Linked DNA regions of Homo sapiens: region 1 is linked to region 2. Evidence: fine-mapped expression QTL. A gene starts in region 2. The other region holds a variant in brackets. All regions are shown on one strand. Distances are from middle to middle.

The links.
Region 1: its variant is fine-mapped to the expression of CYCS in whole blood (TOPMed, PIP 0.99).

The regions. Positions count from the first base shown.
Region 1 is chr7:25,189,356-25,200,111 of GRCh38, forward strand. All of the region lies in intron 1 of LOC124901603 (a long non-coding RNA gene), which reads left to right. It overlaps LOC105375191 (a long non-coding RNA gene), which reads left to right. Exons shown (of 3, transcript XR_927102.3): 3 at 4,407-4,624. Among named protein-coding and RNA genes, the nearest start is that of SPMIP4, 14 kb to the left of the region's middle. The variant G/A (reference allele first, on the strand shown) is at 5,150.
Region 2 is chr7:25,120,100-25,130,855 of GRCh38, forward strand. CYCS (cytochrome c, somatic) reads right to left here and starts at 5,161. Exons shown (of 3, transcript NM_018947.6): 1 at 5,101-5,161; 2 at 3,852-4,028; 3 at 1-3,750. The coding sequence starts at 4,020. The coding sequence ends at 3,602. It also overlaps a transcript of SPMIP4 not described here. RefSeq lists enhancers at 4,086-4,630, 4,631-5,174, 5,322-5,571.

The DNA.
Region 1 (10,756 bases), 69 kb after region 2:
TTTAAAACCTTCGAGACAATACAGTGCACAAGGGAGACTATTCTTATGACTATTGGGAGGATAAAACAAAGAGTTTGCAGTTTGCTCCTTACCCAAGGTCCCCATAAGTCAAACATCCTAAAATCAAATAGAGCAAAGAATGAGCTAGATAAAGAGTCTACTCACTTAACAAGTAGTCTCTTTGTTAATCCCCTACCACTGAATTTCTATAATTTTCACCTGATGTATTTTTCCATAGGCCACAAGTGCCAGCAGTGGCACAGATACTTCTTGTTCTGCCAATTCTATCATAACTTACACAAGAGAATTTAAAGTTTCTGTGTCCTTACCTTTATAATTTGCTACAGAGTCTATCACGAGGGATACATTTCTAATCATTGCTTTTTTTACTTTAAACCATGGAAAAAGGGCCTGACAAATGATGCCCTTCTAGAAGAGTGAAGACCTCCTGGCAGTGTACTTTTTAACCCATGATGTGGGTTAAAAGGAATGAACCAATGTTTTGTTCATAACTGATTACGAGGCAATGTATGTACCATTAAAGTTTTGTACCTACATTGGGTCTTCATCTTTTATCTATCAAAGTATAAGTTTATCCATGTATAAGGCTGGCTGTAAACTTCTTCACAAATAAAAGTATACCCCACAAGTGCACATAACAGACTGACCCCCTAACCACTTCTATTGTTTATAGAAGCATAAGCAGGAAAAAATATTCAAAGATTAGAGTTTCATGATAATAGAAGTCTTAATCTGTGAACATGGAAAAAGCTGTTCACATCAAGATGCCATCTTCTTCTGGGGAGAAACTTTCCTGGCTAGTTTTACCTTAAGGATTTCAATGGGTGTAGAGTTCCAAGAGTGATGAGGGACCTTTCTCAGTTGTGAGATTATGAACCCAAAGTTCAAGGTCCTGAAATTTTGTAATAGTGTGGATGGCAAGGACAGTTTTTCTTTGACGTTCTCAGAAGATCCAAACCATAAAAAGTTTTCTTTACCTGGTGAAACTACACTGTAGCATAATAATCTGCTGTGATAACATCAGCCCTCTGGCATGGGAAAGCTTTTTTTTTCTTTTTTTGGAAACAGAGTCTTGCTGTGTCACCCAGGCTGGAGTGCAATGGTACGATCTCGGCTCACTGCAACCTCTGCCTCCTAGGTTCAAGTGATTCTCCTGCCTCATCCTTCTGAGTAGCTGGGATTACAGGCACCCGCCACTATGGCTGGCTAACTTTTTGTATTTTTAGTAGAGGCAGTATTTCGCCATTTTGGCCAGGCTGGTCTCGAACTCCTGACCTCAGGCGATCCACCTGCCTCAGCCTCCCAAAGTGCTGGGATTACAGGCATGAGCCACCGTGCCTGGCCAGGAAAGCTTTTATACAATCAGAAAACATGCACTGAAAATAACAGTTGCGTGAAATCCCTTTACGAAATGTTCAAATGGCCCACCAGGTGACCAAATGTACCTGAAGCTTTAATTGTTTTCCCATGAATATAGAGCCAAACATTGGTTATAAACTATTTTAGTAATTTGTAAGTTACTACATGAATGTATTCACTTTGGATTATTTTATCTTTTCCATGATGAGTCATGGAATGCAGAACTTTTAATAATAAAAACTTTAAGGACTCAAGAAGGACAAGGTGGTCATCCTGGTTCTCCATGAGTCCATGCTTATTAACATTAGATGTATATCCTCTCGAATACCAGTAGTTTTTCTAAATTAGGTGCATAGCACTGACAACTGATGAGTTATCAAAGGTAATTTGACTTAGACTGTGAAGTTTATTCAAATTGTATATCTAAACAATTTCAGTATCAGCTGGTTTAACATGAGAATCTGACTTTTCTTGGCATTTAATTTTTTTTTGTTCTACTTGGGTTAGTAGCTTTATACAAGGAAATTTGGTTATTTCTGTGGTTTACAGTAACTTAACATAATAACCATAATTATAATTGATAGCATATACTTACACATTAGAATTTTAGAAATCCCATACAATTTTGGAATATATATTAGTATTATTTACAAAAACATAACCTAAAGAAGATTGAACATCATTTTGGCAATCCCATATACCTAAACATGTCAAATAATCTCGTTTACTTCTTTTCCAGATGTTTTCAAGGGCCCTCTGATCAATTCAAAAAGCTAGGCATCAGGAAAGAAAATTTTAAAACTGAAGTTTGATTTTGGAATTCCAGATTACCATAAACTATTTATTTTGCCAAAATGATAACTCAGAAATTTTAAAGAAGCGAAAACCTTTTATAATCTTTTACAAAAAAAAATTCTTCTGTTCTTACACACCTTGCATGTAAAACTGTTTCTAGTAGTCTTAATTACATGTTATAATGGTGACTCTCAGCAATTTTAATTTTAATGTAAAACCTGGTAAGTTATGTTCTGATAAGGTTTGACTATTTCCAGCATTAGCCAGGGGTGCGGCCACCTCCACATGTCCTCAGGCCTTACCTGGTGGAAAGCAGACAAGTTAAACAACTTTCAAAAGCTAAAGGAGCAGTTTATGACCTTAAAGCATTTAGCAAACCTGAAATTTGAGCATAACTTAGGCCACATGTTTACATTTTGAAGACATTTGTATTTTACCAATAATCTTTAAGACTGTCTTTATTTCCCAAAGATTACACAAGTCACATGAACTAAATAAAAGGCATTACATTTTTCACTTTTTTGACAAAATATTTGATTTAAGCTCTTATTATTATTAAACCAATTAATTAAAGCTCTTTTGTATCAATTAAAACTTTACAGAGGAGATAAACAGTGACTTTTACTATTTATTTAACCAGTTTGTACAGAGAGAAAGAGGCCAGTGACTGGCTGGTAAGAAATTCTTACCCTTTTGCCAGCTTGCCACGTTTCTGGGTTCTCTCTCCCTGACCGGCCCTAGTTGACCCCGCTTGACTGTATGCAAACAAACACATTGCCATGAATTAGGAATATTCACAAATAGTTTACAAATTTTGGAGAAATTAGGCAGAGAGAGAGAGAAATGTGACTCAAATTCTATTTATTAGAGTATACTCAACACACTTAAAGTATCAGGGAGCCTAGAATCCAAAAAACTAGTTTTGGATAGAAAGCTGGTGTGCTCCATTAACTCCTGTGGCCCAACAAAGGCAGTGTAGAAATTCCAGATAAATGGAACAAATAATGATTTGCTAGAAATGCATAGGAAACAAAATAAGTATTCACAGAACCAAGTAAAAGCCTTCCACTAGGAACTAAAAAAAAAAAATCATGGTTTTATATATATGCATACACATATACATACACACAAAGCTAGAGGAGAATAAACAGCAAATGAATGAAAACTAGAAGCAGAAACAAAAAACAGGAGACCAACCCTAAATTTTCCTACTCAATATACCTTGGAGGCTACAGTGTTACTGATCCCCAAAACCCACATATTACATATTTTATTCCTGATACACAATTTAATATCCTTAAGTTCATCAATATTATTATAAATTCTGTGCAATTAAGAAATTCACTTTAGGCACATGACCAGTAAGTACTCTAGCACTATCCAAGCAAAACAGTAAACAGAGTGAAGCAATGCAAGCATGTATGTGAAATTTGGCTCCACACTAAACCCAGCTTCATACTTAACTATATTTAAAAAAGAATTGCCAAACTGCTGATTCATTTCTTTACAATACTTCTTATTTTACTTTAATCAAGACTTGGCTTTAACAATGAAAATGTTAATTAGCCAAATGTCTCCATTTCTCTATCAGGTTTTAAAGAATATTTTATTATTTAAATTTTTTTCATCTTTCTCCCCTACTTAATTATTCCTTACTACATTGTTTCATAAATAACCTTTTCAAATCTGTAATTTAAGCTAACTTTCAGATAACTTCTGAATTAGACAAAATTATTCTTTTTTTCACTAATAACATAACCCTTTCTAGCATATTTTGTATACAGAAGTATGTGTTAACTGGAATTTTTATTCTTAGTAACCTAAAACTTTAGTGAAACCCTAAAAAGCAAGAAATCCTGAACTATCAGATATGGACATTTACAGATAAAAACAACTCCACAACCTTTTTCCAGAGTGTTTCTGGGAGGGATGGTCCCCCTGGGTCTTCTCCAGGACCAAGGCCCCAGAGTTCTCTTGTTCTTTTTCAGTGACCCAGGAAAACGAAGCCCCCTCCTGTATTGACAGCTGGGAATTGTGGAGTCTGCCATCCCTCCTCTTGAGATGGGGTCTCCACTAGCACAGAGGCTGCTTTGGAGTCAATAGATCATTTTTTCCCCAAACCAAACACCCTCTTTGCTTGGCTGGTGTTGTTCCTAAGGCAGCTTCACTGGTGAGAGTGAGTGAGGATTGAAGTAGAATAGAGCAGTCACCAGATGTCTTGCTTCCTACAGAAAACTGGATATCTTTGTGGTCCCTGAATGATCCCAGGAGGCTGAACCTATAAAGACGTCTGGTCCCTGACCCCTTCTGCCTCCAGGTGCCCAGAACAGCCTATCGTGGGCCTTCACCCTTGGCAGGTGGATGCCGTTGTCTCAGCTAAGGTTGAGAACTACCAACCTGGGTAATTTGAGCAAAATATTGAGGACCAAATAAATATGGCTGGGAGAAATCTCATCTTCATCCATCTCCTTTATTCCAAAAATAAATTTTGAGAAGCTTCCAAAATCATATGTAATATGGTAAGATGTTTGAACTTTTATGGGATCTGGGAGGGGGAAACCTTGGAAAGAGGGGAGGGCTCTCAGAGAGGGTAAACTTTGAACTGAGGATTGCAGGATAAGGAACATTCCCTCTGACCTGAGTGAGAATGGAGGAAATAGCATTCCTGGCAGAGGGAAAAGCCAGGCAAAGCCCTCAGGGCAGGAATGAGAAGTGGAGGACTTCTCTGAGAATGAGCTTCATATGGCCTGGGACAGTGGGTCCTGGAGAGTCAGGAGGGCTGAGGTTGAGAGGACACCAGGGCCAGGCCGTGTGGAGCTTGAAAGCCCCCCGCACCAAATGGAGATTTCATTCTGACTGTGTTCAGCATGGTTTTCAGCAATGAGGAGGTGATCTGACTGATGTTTGCAAACATTGCTCTGGCTTCCAGTTGCCGACTAGGAAGTAGAAAATCAGAATGGGTCTCACTCCTCTG[G/A]TAACAGTAAAACAACAGATAATCTACAAGATCATACCTTTCCCTGAACCCATCAGAAGCTGAAGTCACAGGGCAAACATTCAGCCTGAGGTTGAAGGAAGGCAGGAGCCTCTGAGAAGAGGAGGTGTGAACATGGCTGTCTGTGGCCAAGCGTGAGAAGGAGACAGCCCTGCCACACAGGTGGGGAAGACTGGCTCAGTCGATGCCTTTAAAGAATCACTGAAGGCTGTGTTTGAGTCAGCATGAAAGTGTGGACCTCCTGGGATCTTTGGACAAGCAGAGTTCACACTCTCTTGCAGGTGCTTCTCTATAGAAGGCCACTGAGCCCCACTCACACATGAATGTATTGGGCACAGAGTGGGAGACCAGATAGAGCCTCCCACAACAGTGCCAGCTTGGGGCAGGGGAGCAGCTGCCACTGCAGGAAATGCACAAAGCTCTTCCAGACTCTTCTTCCGGAACAAACAAAAGCCATACCTTTTGGGGAAAGGGCAGAAAACCCTGCTGACCTCAGGCTGCAGGAAAATCCCACTGAGGTTGGTGGTGTGAAAGGAAAATAAATCTTGGTGCCCCAGAATCACTAAGCTAAAAGGAAAAGTCAAGCTGGGAACTGCTTAGGGCAAACCTGCCTCCCATTCTGTTCAAAGTCACCCCTCTGCTCACTGACATGAATGCATATCTGATTGCCTTCTTTGGAGAGGCTAACCATAAACTCAAAAGAATGCAACCATTTGTCTCTTATATACCTATGACCTGGAAGGCCCCTCCCTGCTTCGAGTTGTCCCATCTTCACCTTGAATTGACCCACCTTTCCAGACTGAACCAATGTACCTCTTACACATATTGACTGATGTCTCAAGTCTCCCTAAAATGTGTAAAACCAAGGGGTGTCCCTACCACCTTGGGCACCTGTCATCAGAACCTCCTGAGGCTGTGTCATGGGTGCTTGTCTGCAACCTTGGCAAAATAAACTTTCTAAATTAACTGAGACCTGTCTCAGATATTTGGAGTTCATATTGGGAAGGAAAAGAAAAATGCTCATGGCAATTGCAGGCAGGAAATTGTCCCAGTCCATTAGAGTGCCCCTTGTCCTGGGGAAGAAAGGATGGATAAAAAAGCCTCATTCTCTGGGCCCTGGAACACTGGGCCTGCCTCACACTGAGTCTGGAACAAAACGACAGACAGTGGCCCTGACCCCACACCAGGTCAACAAGCACCAAGTAACAAGTAATAGCAGTCTACAGCAAGGGACAGCCAAAAAATGTGGATGGGCACACGGGGAAGGTGTAAATCTGAGGGTGGAGCATGAATATTGTGAGCCCAGCCCTTACCCAGGGACGCAGTAGCACTAGGGGGATTTGAAGCCAGTGGTGCATTGAACTAAAATGGCAACAGCAAAACCCAGACCCAGTTGAACTCATCACTAGATCAACTCAACCCCTCATACCAGCAGGTAGTAGAAGGAAAGGCATGCCCATTTCCGGGCATAAATACTTCTTGCTTCAGTCTCTACTGTCTTACACATGTCAAACATTCAATCAAAGATCACAGGACACACAAGAGCAACTGAAAACAACCCACTGTCAGGGGAAAAATCAATCAACAGAAACAGACTCAGGTGGACCACATGCATGACTAGATGGGGAATGTCAACAGAGAGATGGAAGCTGTAAGGAAGAGTCTAATGGGAATGCCAGAAGAAAAAAAAGTGATGGTAGCAGAGATGAAGTATGCATTTGACAGGACTATCAGTAGACTCAACCCTGTAAGAATTAAAGAAAGAGGAAAGAAACACAAAAGGTGGCTTGGCAGTTAAGGACAGGTTTATTTTAGAGAAAACGAACCTGAGAGGGGCTTTTGGCTGAGTTAGGGTAGAGGCACATTTTTTTACAGACTAAGAGTGTTTAAGGATTTAGGGTAAGAGAGTTTGTTGGAGGCTTGGACACTTTTGTGTTTTTTTGTTGTGTTTATTTGGGAGGGAGAGTTGTGTGTTTGTTTCCACACTTTTTTTTTTTTTTTTTTTTTTTTGCAGCTGCAGGCATACCCCCTGAGTTTGCATTTAGCTTCCCTATCTTAGTGCACCCGAAGGGAAAGGAATGTGCTTATTAAGGCCCACTGTTTTACTGGGCCTATTGTATGAGAGTGAAGTTTGGCAGTTACCCAAGAGACTTTCCCCTACTTTCCTCTGTGCCGGGGCTGTGTTATCTGTGTTTTACTGTTTGCTCTTTCTGGCTGATTGTAGTTAGAAGAGAAATGATTTCCTTGAAATGCATGAGGCTAGAAAGGGAGCTGGGATTTAAAGTGACGGTGTTTGTCTGAGATGATGGTGCTCCTGCTCTGTCAAACACAACTGAAGAACAAAGCAGTGAACGTGAAAGTTGATTGAAATTACCTAAACTGTGACCGAGTGAGACCCTGTCTCAAAACAATAAATAAACAAATAACCTAAACTGAGACACAAAGAAAAGAGTGAAAACAAAACAAAACAAAAAAATAGGGCACCAAAGCTGTGGGACAACATAAACAGTTTGAAGAGATGATGGCCAATAGTTTTTTATTTTTTTTTTGGTGACAGAGTTTTGCGCTTGTCGCCTAGGCTGGAGTGTAATGGCATGACCTCTGCTCACTGCATCACTGTAACCTCCTTCTCCCGGGTTCAAGTGATTCTCCTGCCTCAGCCTCCTGAGCCACCACACCTGGCTAATTTTTGTATTTTTAGTAGAGACAGGGTTTCCCCATGTTGACCAGGCTGGTTTTGAACTCCTGGCCTCAAGTGATCCCCCTGCCTCGGCCTCCCAAAGTGCTGGGATTGTAAGTGTGAGCTACCGTGCCCGGCCACCAAGTCAGCTCAATTTCTTTACTTATCTTGTCATGGATCTGTATTTATTACTGGACAGAGACCACAATTTGAATAGCAGTGATCTGAGGACAGTGTTTGAGAGCTATGGGGGAAATTCTTTTGACAATACTCAGCTTGGATAATTTTTTTGCTCTCTTGAAGTTAAAGCTGTCTGTAAAATTCTTCTCCTAATAACAATAATGTATAGAAAAAACATACATATGTATATGTATACATATAAAGGATGATTTTAAGCTGTTGTGGATCACCAGTATTTGATCTTTGTGTGAATTGATGTGATGGCAAATGATGACAACCATGGTTGAACCGAGGCTGTGAAGTGCCAGGCAGTTGGTGTTTACTCTTTCAAGACTGGTTTCCAGACTGAGAGACACAGAACTCTGTATTAACCTCAGGGACACTTCAGTGTATTCATCCAAGAGTTTGTCATCTATGTCACAAACTCCATGTTTAACTATCATTCTGGCTGAAAAGAGAGAGAAGAAAGTCTCTGCATGGAGTCAGGATAGACAAGTTCATGCTGCAGGAACATGTAGTCCCAAATCTAAGTGGCCTAAAATCCCAGTGGGTTGTCTCCCCTTGTTCTCTTTAAACCAAGACAGCAAGGGGCTGTGTATTGTCATATTGTGTCATTCAGGGCCCAGGTTGGTGGGGAGTCCACTGTCTCCTAACTCTGTCTTCTCAATATGAGGCTTCAGGGTTTGTATCAGCAGAAGAAGGGAGCATGGGTTATTAAGCATCGGTTCTTAACCGCTTTGACTCATAAGTAATTCACATCAGTTTCTTCATAATTCAGCAGCCAAAGGAAATTAGGGGGCCATGCATAAAATTAACAAGCTGGGAAGTGTAATGTTCCTGTGTCCTGGGAATAGAGGCAATTGGAGGTGTTCGTGAGTTCTAGAAATGTCAGTCAGTATTCTTTTACTGCTCTGCCTACCTCTAAGTTTTATACTCATCCTGTTATTCTTACACTGCCACCAGGGAGATTTTTCTAAAATGCGAATCTGTCATGAATCTTGCTTGAAATCCACCATGGATCCCTGTTTACAGAATGAAAGCAGAATTCATAACTTAAAAAAATTCCTTCAGAATCAGATCTGTCTTCATCAGCCCTGTCCCACCCACAGCCCACTCTCCAGTTCTATTGAACTACCTACTTGCAATTTCCTGACAGCCTTTTTCTTGTCTGCATACCTTTCCACCTGCTATTCATTCATACCAAGTTTCATTCTCTTTGGTAAACCTTATGTATCAGTCTGTGTTCAGCAAGGAGACAGAAACCACACCCATTATTTGAACGGGACAAATTTAATAAGTAAAAGCTTGTTTACTAGAGGAAAGTGCTTAACTACTCAGAGGGACCAAAGAGGACTTTAAGAAGCTATAACTTGTAGGCTGAGGTAGAGTAAACAATAAAGAAACTTAGGACCAGAAGGGTCTCCCTGCCTCAACGAAGGCTGAGATGCAAACTTCTTGGAAGACAGCATGGCTTCCAAGCCTTCAGATGGAGAAGAAACTTGCCAGGGTGCAGGCGGCGGTAGTCCCTAGAAGTAGTCCGCTCTTGTTGGAGGGTGTGAGCTGAGCAGAACTGGTCTGTAGATGTGGCCTGCCATTGCTGGTGGATGTGGCTGCTGGTGGAGGGAGTGGCCTGAGGGCAGAGCTGGAACTGAACATGAGGCCACTGGACTCCCATGCTGAATAATAATAATAATAATAGTAATAATAAAAACATCAGAAGACAAGAACCTGAAACTGAGGTGTCTTCCTGTTATCTTTGCCTTTTAAGGTCACTCCAGTGCTGTCTTTTGGTGAAGCTTAAAAGACAGGAGAAACGTTTGCAGAGTCTCACAAAGCAGGGTGAAGAAGAGTTGATTTGGACCTGAGAGCCAATAAACAGATAACTCACACACCATAATAATAATGATAATTTATTTAATGTATATTATGTGCCTGGTGCTGTGATACAATTATATGTCTGTAAATGTGTGTAAGTGTATGTAGTTTTAAATTCTATAACACACCTGTGAGATAGATATTATTACCATGTGACATGTGAGAAAAATGGTCCAGGTTTGTCTGGGCATCAAAGCTGTGCTCTTGTCCACTCTGCTATCCTGATTTTCCTTTCCTGTCTTTGGAAAGTTAAATATTCTCTCTTGTCTTCCCCCTTGTGACATGAGCAGGTCTGTTTATTTATTTATTTATTTGAGTTGGAGTCTTGCTCTGTCTTCCAGACTACAGTGCAGTGATGTGTTCTCAGCTCACTGCAACTCTGCCTCCTGGGTCCAAGTGATTCTTCTGCCTCAGCCTCCTGAGTAGCTGGGATTACAGGCGCTCACCATCACGCCCCGCTAATTTTTGTATTTTTAGTAGAGATGGGGTTTCACCATGTTAGCCAGGCTGGTCTCAAGCTCCTGACCTCAGGTGATCCGCCCACCTCGGCCTCCCACAATACTGGGATTACAGGTGTGAGCCACCACTCCTGGCTGCAGGCCAGTTTATATGGAGTTTATCCAGGAGTACCTAGAAAGCAGGAACTGTGTTTTTCTATTCATTTCGGGTTTCAAATGCCTATGATTAGTGCTTGGTACCTAACAGGCACTTAAATGTCCACCAAAAGAACAATTGGTTGGATGTTTTATCTTTGCAGTTAATGCCAATGAGGTAAGTAACTCTGGAAACACGTCTGTAGGTGCTTAATAAATCCATTGCATTGAGTATTTGCCATTGGATTGAGCAAGTCAGCT
Region 2 (10,756 bases):
TTTTTTGGAGACAGTTTCACTCGTCACCCAGGCTTGAGTGCAGTGGCACAATCTTGGCTCACTGCAACCTCCACCTCCCAAGTTCAAGTGATTCTTGTGCCTCAGCCTCCCAAGTAGCTGAGATTACAGGTGCCCACCACCACACCTGGCTAATTTTTATGTTTTTTGTAGAGACAGGGTTTCGCCATGTTGACCAGGCTGGTCTCAAACGCCTGACCTCAAGTGATCTGCCTGCCTTGGCCTCCCAAAGTGCTGGGATTACAGGCATGAGCGACCATGCCCGGCTAATTCTAGATTTAATAGAGTAAAGAGAAAGTACTTTTGTTACAGACCACTGGTTCTAGTCCTAGACCCAGAATGTCAATACAGTAGCCACTAGCCACTTGTGCCTATGTAAATTTAAAATAAAATACTTTCTAGTCACACTAGCTATATTTCAAGGGCTTAACAGCCACATGTGGTTAGTGGCTACCACACTGGACAGCAAAAGTCTACAAAATATCCATCGTCACAGAAAGTTCTATTAGACAGCACTGTTCTAGACAAAATAAGCATGTAGGTGGCATCTGAATACCCCTTAAATACATCTGGCCCTTGTTTTTGATTCTACCAACCTAGCCACTTACAGCGAAGCACTAGAAATGAAAACATGTGGTTTATAGTGCTCTTTTTTTCCCCTATTTCCTTATTTCTGAAGGTATATATCCCTGATAGAAATGTCCTTTTTAAAAAATTACATAATTGGCCAGGCGTGGTGGCTCACGCCTGTAATCCCAGCACTTTGGGAGGCCGAGGCAGGTAGATCACCTGACGTCGGGAGTTCAAGACCAGCCTGTCCAGCATGGAGAAACCCTGTCTCTACTAAAAACACAAAATAAGCTGGGCATGGTGGCGCATGCTTGTAATCCCAGCTACTTGAGAGGCTGAGTCAGGAGAATCGCTTGAACCTGGAAGGCGGAGGTTGCGGTGAGCAGCGATCACGCCATTGCACTCCAGCCTGGGCAACAAGAGTGAAATTATCTCAAAAAAATAAAAATAAAAAAGTTACAGAATCACATTTTAAACCACCAGAAGTGCTTGGGTATAACTGACCTAGAACATGGCAGTTACTCATCTGTGCCAACACAGACCTTAATATAGGAGGCATAGAAATGAGAAAAATTGGCCGGACGTGGTGGCTCACACCTGTAATCCTAGAACTTTGGGAGGCCAAGGTGGGTGGATCACGAGGTCAGGAGTCCAAGACCAGTCTGGCCAACATGGTGAAACACCATCTCCACTAAAAATACAAAAATTAGCCAGGCGTGGTGGCGGGTGCCTGTAATCCCAGCTACTCAGGAGGCTGAGGCAGGAGAATCACTTGCAACTGGAAGGCGGAGGTTGCAGTGAGATTGCACCACTGTACTCAGCCTGGGCGAAAAGGGCGAAACTCCGTCTCAGAAAAAATAAATGAGAAAAATTTTAAACCTGAAAAAAAATTAAACCTAAGTTACTACTGGGCTGATTACTTCTGGGTTAAATAATAAGATTTCTGAATTTGAAAACCAGGCAGGGCCTGGTGGCTCACGCCTGTAATCCCAGCACTTTGGGGAGCCAAGGCAAGTGGACGGATTGCTTGAGCTCAGGAGTTTGAGACCAGCCTGGGACCACATGGCAAAACTCCATCTCTACAAAAAAATTAGCTGGGCATGGTGGCGAACACCTGTAGTCCCAGCTACTTGGGAAGCTGAAGTGAGAGAATCGCTTGAGCCTGGGAAATAGAGGTTGCAGCCAGCCGAGATCGCACCACTGCACTCCAGCCTTGGCGACACAGCGTGACCATGTCTCAAAAAACAAACTAAACGCCACAACTAGCCAAGATGGAAGGTTGAACACATTTCTGTATCTATCTTAATATGTTTCCTGTATCATTTCCAGGATGCCAAAAAAAAAAAAAATCAACTCTCTAGCCTTCACTTCAGGTCTTTCTCATTAGTCCAGAATTGTCCCCTTGTAAGCTACTTGCTACACTGTCCCTGAATACCACTAACTTTATACAGTCACCAAGTCCTCTGCTACAAGGCCTTTCAAAGTCTGAAATCTTTAAAGGATTTCCAGGATGCATTTTTAAATTCCCCACCAGAACTCAGACTAGGACTTCAAATATGAATTACAGCAAGCTTTCCACATTTCTATAAATAAAAATAAGACTCATATGTTATAAATTGCTTTCAGGCCTTAAAACACCTATCTAATCGTCCCTATCACCTTTGAGACCATGGATTCACATCTTCTCAGTCTTCTCACTGTCCCACAAAGATACAGTTCTCAGCTGCACCAGCATAGATTTATTTTCTCATTATTCTTTATGACTTACCTTGTGCTCACCATCTCCATAAAATCTCCAAGGACTACTCTAAATGTGTATGGCACAGACTATGCATGAAATAATTCAGTATGTAATTATACACTGTTACACATCACAAAACTATGACCACAGGCATTCCTCTGTCCATGTCTGGCATAAATGCTGCAGTTCTCAATCTGAGCAAAGAAACTAAGAGTCAATTAGTGAAGTGTTATTCTAGTTGAGGCAGTCCTAGAAAACCAAGTAAACAATCTAGCACCATGACTGGTTAACACTGCTGCACTGACATTTAGGGCTGCTGCACTGACATTTAGGGCTCCTGCACTTTTTAATCATTAAAATTTGTGCATCAGTCATGAAATCAAGCACAGTCAAAAAGTCATGATCTGTGGTTTTCTTTTTAATTATCTTTAGTCTTGTGATCACACATAATTTTAAAATTTGTGTATATCTCCGTTACTTTAATCCTTTTAAGTTGGCAAAAGCACCATTCCCAATCAAATACACAGTTCTACAGTTTTGTTTCTGAATGGCTGTTTAAAGACAATCCTAAATTATAACTTAGTTTGACTTAGATTGTAAAGAATTCAAGAGTGAAGTTTAACTTGCTACTATTTTAAAAGCATGTGACCTTATAGATCTGTAAGATGTGAGAGGTGTTGAATAATCTTTAATATTACACATAAACCACACTAAAATGCCTTTCAATAAGTAAAAGAAACCATTTTAAATACAGGGAATTATAATTAGATTGGCATAGTTAAGGCCAAAACTATAGACATTGCTACCTTATTTATCTTCAACCCTTGCCTTTAAGAGGCAAATGAACATGAACACAAAACACAGGTGAATCTTGCTTGGTTCTAAGACAGTGAAGCAATTTCCCCAGTATTTAAATATATTCACATAACCAGTTATATAAATCTAAATATAAAACCAATCTCCAGTAAGTTTTAAGATGGCACTCACCATCTTTGTGAAAAGTTGAACATTACTAACGAAGTCTAATCATATCTTTAAAAGGGGTAAACAGTGATACCATTTACTGAATTGGAGTTACTATTAAAATTCAAAAACTGAACATATTCATTTAACCACAAGCCAGTCTTAGTTTTAAATCAGGACTGCCCAACAAAATATTCTGTCAGTCATTCATGATCTGAATTCTGGTGTATGAGATCTATTAAAGGATGGTACACATAAAAAAGTCATGAGACATTTCTGTTTTGTAATAAATAAGGCAGTGGCCAATTATTACTCATTAGTAGCTTTTTTGAGATAAGCTATTAAGTCTGCCCTTTCTTCCTTCTTCTTAATGCCGACAAAGATCATTTTTGTTCCAGGGATGTACTTCTTGGGATTCTCCAAATACTCCATCAGTGTATCCTCTCCCCAGATGATGCCTAAACAAGAAAGAATGCATCGGTTATTTCACACTCCTGATAGTTTGCCACATGTTATATTCCTGCATTTTGTGTTGTTTTATTTAACAAGTGACTCTTACCTTTGTTCTTATTGGCGGCTGTGTAAGAGTATCCAGGGGCCTGACCTGTCTTCCGCCCAAAGAGACCATGGAGATTTGGCCCAGTCTTGTGCTTGCCTCCCTTTTCAACGGTGTGGCACTGGGAACACTTCATAATAAAAATCTTCTTGCCTTTCTCAACATCACCCATATTTAATTCTAAAAACGAAAGCTTCAACTTAGTAAATTTTTCCTCAGGTAACAAATACAGTGTAAATGAATGACCACTCTAGCCACTTAATTACCAATCCATTGCTAATTTATGTCATTAAATACCAGAATGAATCTTGTTTTGCTTTAATACTCTTTATACCAAATATTCTTTAATACCAAAAACATTTTTAGGAGTACCTCCTCAAAAACGTATTTTTGTGTGTATACGTGAAGGAACGTTAAAGCCCAAGCAAAGAGGGAACCTAATTCAAACTCCAGTTTCAGAAGAGACAATCATGGTCACGAAGTCACAGATCTGAAGCTCAAGGGCGAACACATTAAGCCAAAATCACCACAACCGCAACTTTTAAAAAGACCTAACCATTTAATCTTACTACAATGTAAAGCCACCTCTCCCTGAGGATAACGCAAAGCACACAAATGTTTAAAAAGCGGTCCTGGCTGTTTCTATCTGCCCAGGTCACAGGAGTAGCTTGACACTCGAACTTGTGAATGGGAGCTCAGGGGCAGGCTGCACGGTCCCCCGGGGACATCCCAACTCCCCTACCTGTGATCTCCTGGGGCGACCACGAGGTCACCCGTCCAGGTCGGTTTCAAGGTGATTGATGAAACTCCTTCTAGGATGTCAGAACGACTGACGGAAGAAACATGTGCCCACGAAAAGAACTGGCCCCTTATTAGAAGAGCAACAGCTTTTGCCCTCTGAAGAAGAACGTGAAGCTCTAAGCTTCGGCTTTCCAGGAGGGAAGTCTTGCCTATCATTTCCATAGCCCTTCAGCAACCACTACGGAAGAGGCCGCCTCCTCCTCGGATCTGTATCCAAGCCGCCTCCAGTCCCTGACCGAGACCATACCTGTCCCTAGTTAGGGCTCCGCCGCACCTCAAGCCGTTACTCGCCCAGCTCGGTCTGACCACAGTCCAGGGTCTTCACTCCCCGCCCTCCCACCCAGCGCGGGCTCCACTCGAATGCTCCCCGCTTGGGTTTCGGTCGCTCGCAAGTGCGCGCCTCCCACAGCTCTGCCTCTAACCAGGTGCGGCCTCCGCGACCCGCTCTCACCTCTTTTTAGTCGCTGGCACAACGAACACTCCCGCTCCGAAGCCGGACGTCCCCACTCTCTAAGTCCAAGGACACGCCGGTCCGCGCTTAAGTACCGGTGTAAGTGCAACCAAACTCGCTCCGCGCTCCCGCGCCCTGACGTGCGGCCGAGCTGGCGGCTACGCAGTAACGTCGCCGCACCTCATTGGCTCCAGTCCCAATGCCTGCGCCAAGGACCTGCGCGCGCATGCTGGCGAGCATGTTAGGGTGTACGGCGTGCGTGCCCTTCTTCTCGAGGCTTTTCCCGGCCGTTACGACAGGCCTTTGGTCGTACGACAACGAGGTGGTGTCGGGAGAGGTGACGTCACTCGCGGGCCTCTGTGCGCTTGCGTGTGCTGGAGGAGCGGGGAGGGTGGGGCGGAGTCGCTTGGTTGGTGCGTTGCCCTGCTAAAGTATCAGTTCTTGGGCGTGGTGATGTAATGAGCTTTGAGCAGGGCGTTTTGCCGGTCCAGGAAAAGACGCCCTAATTTTGGCGCACCTAGAGGTCTCCTAGCTACCATCTTGTCAGCAGGCGACCTTTACCCAGACTCTGTCCTACTACCACGGCTGGCGCCAACAGCATCCTAGAGGGACAGCCTGGAACCAGGAGTTACACGAGTTGGGCACCAGCTCGTGACCTTGTTCTAGTTCCACCTATACTCTGTTACTTTCAGTCACATTCCAGCTCTCCGCTTGATGGACGCCCCAAGACTGAGGAAGGTGCTGCATTTGCGGCAGAGACAGGATTATCCCTCTGGAACTGAAAAATAAAATTAAGAGGATGCAATGATAACATTTATGTACCTTTTAAAATTTTTATGAGTACGAAGTAGGTAAATATATATATATACTTAAGAGGTACATGAGATATTTTGATACAGGCATACAATGTATAATAATCACATCAGGGTAAACGGTCTATCCATCACCTCAAGCATTTATCCTTTTTTTCTGTTACAAGCAATCCAATTATACTTTTAGTTTGTTTAATGTACAATAAATTATTGTTGAGTGTAGTCACCCTGTTGTATTACTAGACCTTATTCATTCTTCTTCAGTGGCGCCATTTAATGTCTCAGCCCCCCAAGTAGCTGGGACTACGGGAGCAAACCACCACGCCCAGCTAATTTTTGTATTTTTAGTAGAGATGGGGTTTCACTATTTGGTCAGGCTGGTCTCGAACTCCTGACCTCAGGTGATTCACCCGCATCGGCCTCCCAAAGTGCTGGGATTACAGGTGTGAGCCACCACGCCCAGGGCAAATAATATTTTATAACCCATTGTTTTAAACTGATGACAACATAACATTGATTGCATAAACAAAAATCAAAGAGAAAACTAAGAAAAACTCTGCACTTTAACTTCACTCTCCCCACTTTTAAAACTTTTTCTTGTTTCTATTTATATATTATTATACTATGTCTTGAAAAGTTGTTATAGCTATTATTTTTGATAAGTTAGGTTAATCTCTAAGTCTTTCTACTCAAGATATGAACAGTTTACACACAATTACAGTATTATAATATTGTGTGTTTTTCTGTGTACTTACTATTAGTAGTGAGTTTTGTACCTTCAGGTGGTTTCTTATTGCTTACGAATGTCCTTTTCTTTCAGACTGAGGAACTCCCTTTAGCATTTCTTGTAGGACAGGTCTGGTGTTGATGAAATCCCTCAGCTTCTGTTTGCCTGGGAAAGTCTTTATTTCTCCCTCACATCTGAAGGATATTTTCACTGGATGTACTATTCTAGGATAAAAGTTTTTTCCCTCAGCACTTTAAATATGTAATGCCACTCCCTCCCGGCCTGTAAAGTTCCACTGATAAGTTTGCTGCCAGACTTATTAGAACTCCTTTTTATGTTATTTGTTTCTTTTCTCTTGCTTGCTTTTAGGATTCTTTCTTTATCCTGGATCTTTGGGAGTTTGATTATTAAATGTTTTGGGGTGTCTTCGTTGGGTTAAATCTGCTTGGTGTTTTATAACCTTCTTGTACTTGAATATTGATATCTTTCTCTAGGTTTGGGAAGTTCTCTGTCATTATCTCGCTGAATAAACTTTCTACCCTGATCTCTCTCTCTAGCTCCTCTTTATGGCCAGTAACTCTTAGATTTGCCCTTTGAAGCCAGTTTCTAGATCTTATAGGTGTACCTCATTCATTTTTATTCTTTTTTCTTTTGTCTCTTCTGAGTGTGTATTTTCAAATAGCCCATCTTCAAGCTCACTAATTCTTCCTTCTGTTTGATCAATTCTGCCTGTAAGGGACTGCATTTTTTAGTACGTTAATTGGATTTTTCAGCTTCAGAATTTCTGCTAGATTCTTTTTAATTGTTTTAATCTCTGTTAAATTTATCTTGTAGAATTCTGAATTTCTTCTCTGTGTTATCTTGAATTTTGTTGAGCTTCCTCAACACAGCTATTTTGAATTCTCTGTTTGAAAAGTCACATATCTCTTTCTCTCTGGAATTGGTCACTTGTGCCTTCATTAGTTTGTTTGGTGAGGTCGTGTTTACCAGGGTGGTCTTGATGCTTGTGGATTTTTGTTGGTGTCTGGGCACTGAAGAGTTAGGTATTTATTATTGTCTTCACAGTCTGGGCTTTTTATTTTTTTGTATCCACCCTTCTTGGGATGGCTTTCCAAGTATTTGAAGGGACTTGGGTGTTGTGATCTAAGTCTTTGGTCACTGCAGCTATATCTGCATTAGGGGCCATCCGAAGCTCAGTAAAACTATAGCTTTTGCAGACTTGTAGGGGTATGACATTTGTGGTCTTGGGTAAGATCCAGGAGAATTACCTGGATTACCAGGCAGAGACTCTGTTCTCTTATCTTACTTTCACCCAAACAAATGGAGTCTCTGCACTGAGCTGTCTGGAGCTAGGGGAGAGGTGACACAAGCACCCTTGTGGCTGCCTCCACTGTGACTGTGCTAGGAGAGACCTGATGCCAACATAGCACTGGGTCTGGTCCAAGGCTTGCAGTGACCACTGTCTAGCTACAGTAGCTTATGTTTCCTCAAGGCCTGCATTCAGAAGCTGGTGAATTCAGCCAGCCTTGTGTCCTTCCTATCAGGGCAACAAGTTCTCTCCATCTTCAAGTAGGTCCAGAGATGCTGTCTGGAAGCCAGGGCTTGGGGTCGGGAACCTTAGGAATCTACCTGGTACTCTATTCCACTGTGGCTGACCTGGCACCCAAACCACAAGATAAAGTTATTCTCACTCTTCCCTCCTCTTTCCTCAAGCATCAAAGTCCTTCCCCATGACCACCATTGCACTAGCCCATGGCTAGTACTTCCTGGCTATGCCAACATTCACTCAAGGCACAGGGGCTCTTCAGTCAGCTTGTGATAAATGCTATTAGTCCCGAGTTTCTCCTTTCAGGGCAGTGGGGTCCTCTTTGGCCCAGGGCATGTCCAGAAATGCTGTCTAGGAGCCAAGGCATGGAATCAGGGACTCCAGGAGCCTGCTTGGTGCCCTACTCCCCAGTAGCTGAGCTGGTATCCAAGTCGCAAGACAAAGTCTCCTTACTTTTCCCTCTCCTTTCCTCAAATAGGAGTCTCTCCCCTGAAGCCACCACACCTGAAGCCAGCATGGCTGGCTACTACTACTGATTATTCAAGCCCAAAGTCTCTTTAGTCAGCAAGTGATGAATCTTGCCAGGCCTGGGCTCTTCCCTTTAAGGCAACAGGTTCCGTTCTGGCCCAGGGTGTCTCTAGAAATTTCATGTGGGGGCTAGGGCATGAAATGGGGGCCTCCCCCTAGTGCACAGTTCTACCGTGGCTGAGCTGGTATTCAAGTTGTAAGACAATGTCTTCTTTACTCTCCCCTCTCTTCTCCTCAAGTGGTGGGAAGGAGTCTCTCCCAGTACTGTCAGCAGCAGTGCCTGTGGCTTGGAGAAGGGTGATGCAAGCATTCCCTTGGCCTCCCTGGCTAGCATCTCACTAGGTCATGTACATTCTAAGCCCAATGGCTCCAAGCCCAGCAACAGAACTTGCCCAAGAATTGTAGTTCTTTTGGCCTATTCTGCCTTTCAAGTTTATTTGGGACCCCCCCAGAGCACTTTAGCCCACGGTAGCTGGGCCTGCTAGAACTCAGGTTCTGGCTGCTTGGATGAATGACTCCTCTCTAGCTAGGGCTCATCTACATGCTCCCTCTGGGCACTGGCTGATTTCTGCCCAGTGTTGTTTTTCACTGTGACAGGGCAGCACTGAGTTCCAATGCAAGGCCCTGCAATCACTGCCCTGTCCCTTCCGCAAGCACACTGATTCTCTATGCCATGTGGCCACTGCTGGGGGATGTGGAAGGGGTGGTGTAGGCAATCCAAGACTGCCTTTTTTACCCTCTTCAGTGCCTCTTTCCTTAATATGATGTTAAAACCAGGTACTGTGATTGCTCACATGATTTTTGGTTCTTATGAAGGTTCTTTTTTGGGTGGATAGTTGTTCAATTTGTTGTTCCTATGTCGGGGGCAATTCCTGGAGGCTTCCATTTGGCCATCTTGCTCCACCTCTCCACCAAAATGACTTTTTGGAGAGGAGTTATTAGACTACCTCTGGAAGTGCTGTAACAGCCCAATGGGTTCTTCTTGCCTGCTGCCTAGAAAAGCCAATGCATTGAGAGCAACAGTTTTTGGAGCAGAGAAAGAGTTTAATTATCAGAGGGCCAGCCAAGCAGAAGGATGGGAGATAATTTTCAAATCTGCCTCCCTAAGAATACGGAAGCTAGGGTTTTTCAAGGATAGTTGGTGGCTGGGTGTGGTGGCTCATGCCTGTAATCCCAACACTTTGGGAGGCCGAGGCGGGTGGATCACTTGATGTCAGGAGTATGAGACCAGCCTGGCCAACATGGTGAAACCCCGTCTCTACTAAAAATACAAAAAATTAGCCCAGTGTGGTGGTGCATGCCTGTAATCCCAGCTACTTGGGAGGCTGAGGCAGGAGAATCACTTGAACCTGGGAGGTGGAGGTTGCAGTGAGCTGAGATCATGCCACTGCACTGCGCTCCAACCTGGGCGACAGAGAAAGACTCCGCATCTCAAAAAAACAAAAAAGAAAGAAAAGAAAAAAGAAAAGCAAGCTGGGGACAGTGGCTGGTTATCACTTCTTTTTTTTTTTTTTTTTGAGACGGAGTTTCGCTCTTGTTGCCCAAGCTGTAGTACAATTGCGCGATCTCGGCTCACTGCAACCTCTGCCTCCCAGGTTCAAGAGATTCTCCTGCCTCAGCCTCTCAAGTAGCTGGGATTACAGGTGTGTGCCACCATGCCCGGCTAATTTTTTGTATTTCTAGTAGAAACAGGGTTTCACCATGTTAGCCAGACTGGTCTTGAACTCCTGACCTCAGATGTTCCGCCCACGTCAGCCTCCCAAAGTGCTGGGATTATAGGTGTGAGCCACCGCGCCCAGCCAGTTATCACTTAACTACACCTACTTCTTAGCAATTCAGGCCCCTCCCATAATCCTAACCTTGTGACCTTTCATTAGTTTTTCAAGGGTGATTTTTGGTTCCTGAACAAGTAGGGGGTTAGTTTTGGGAAGGAAGGAGCTATTATTGTCTTTGCCTTACAGTTAAACTATAAATTCCTCCCGTAGTTAGCTTGGCCTATGCCCAGGAATGAACACACAGCTTGTGAGGTTAGAAGCAAGATGG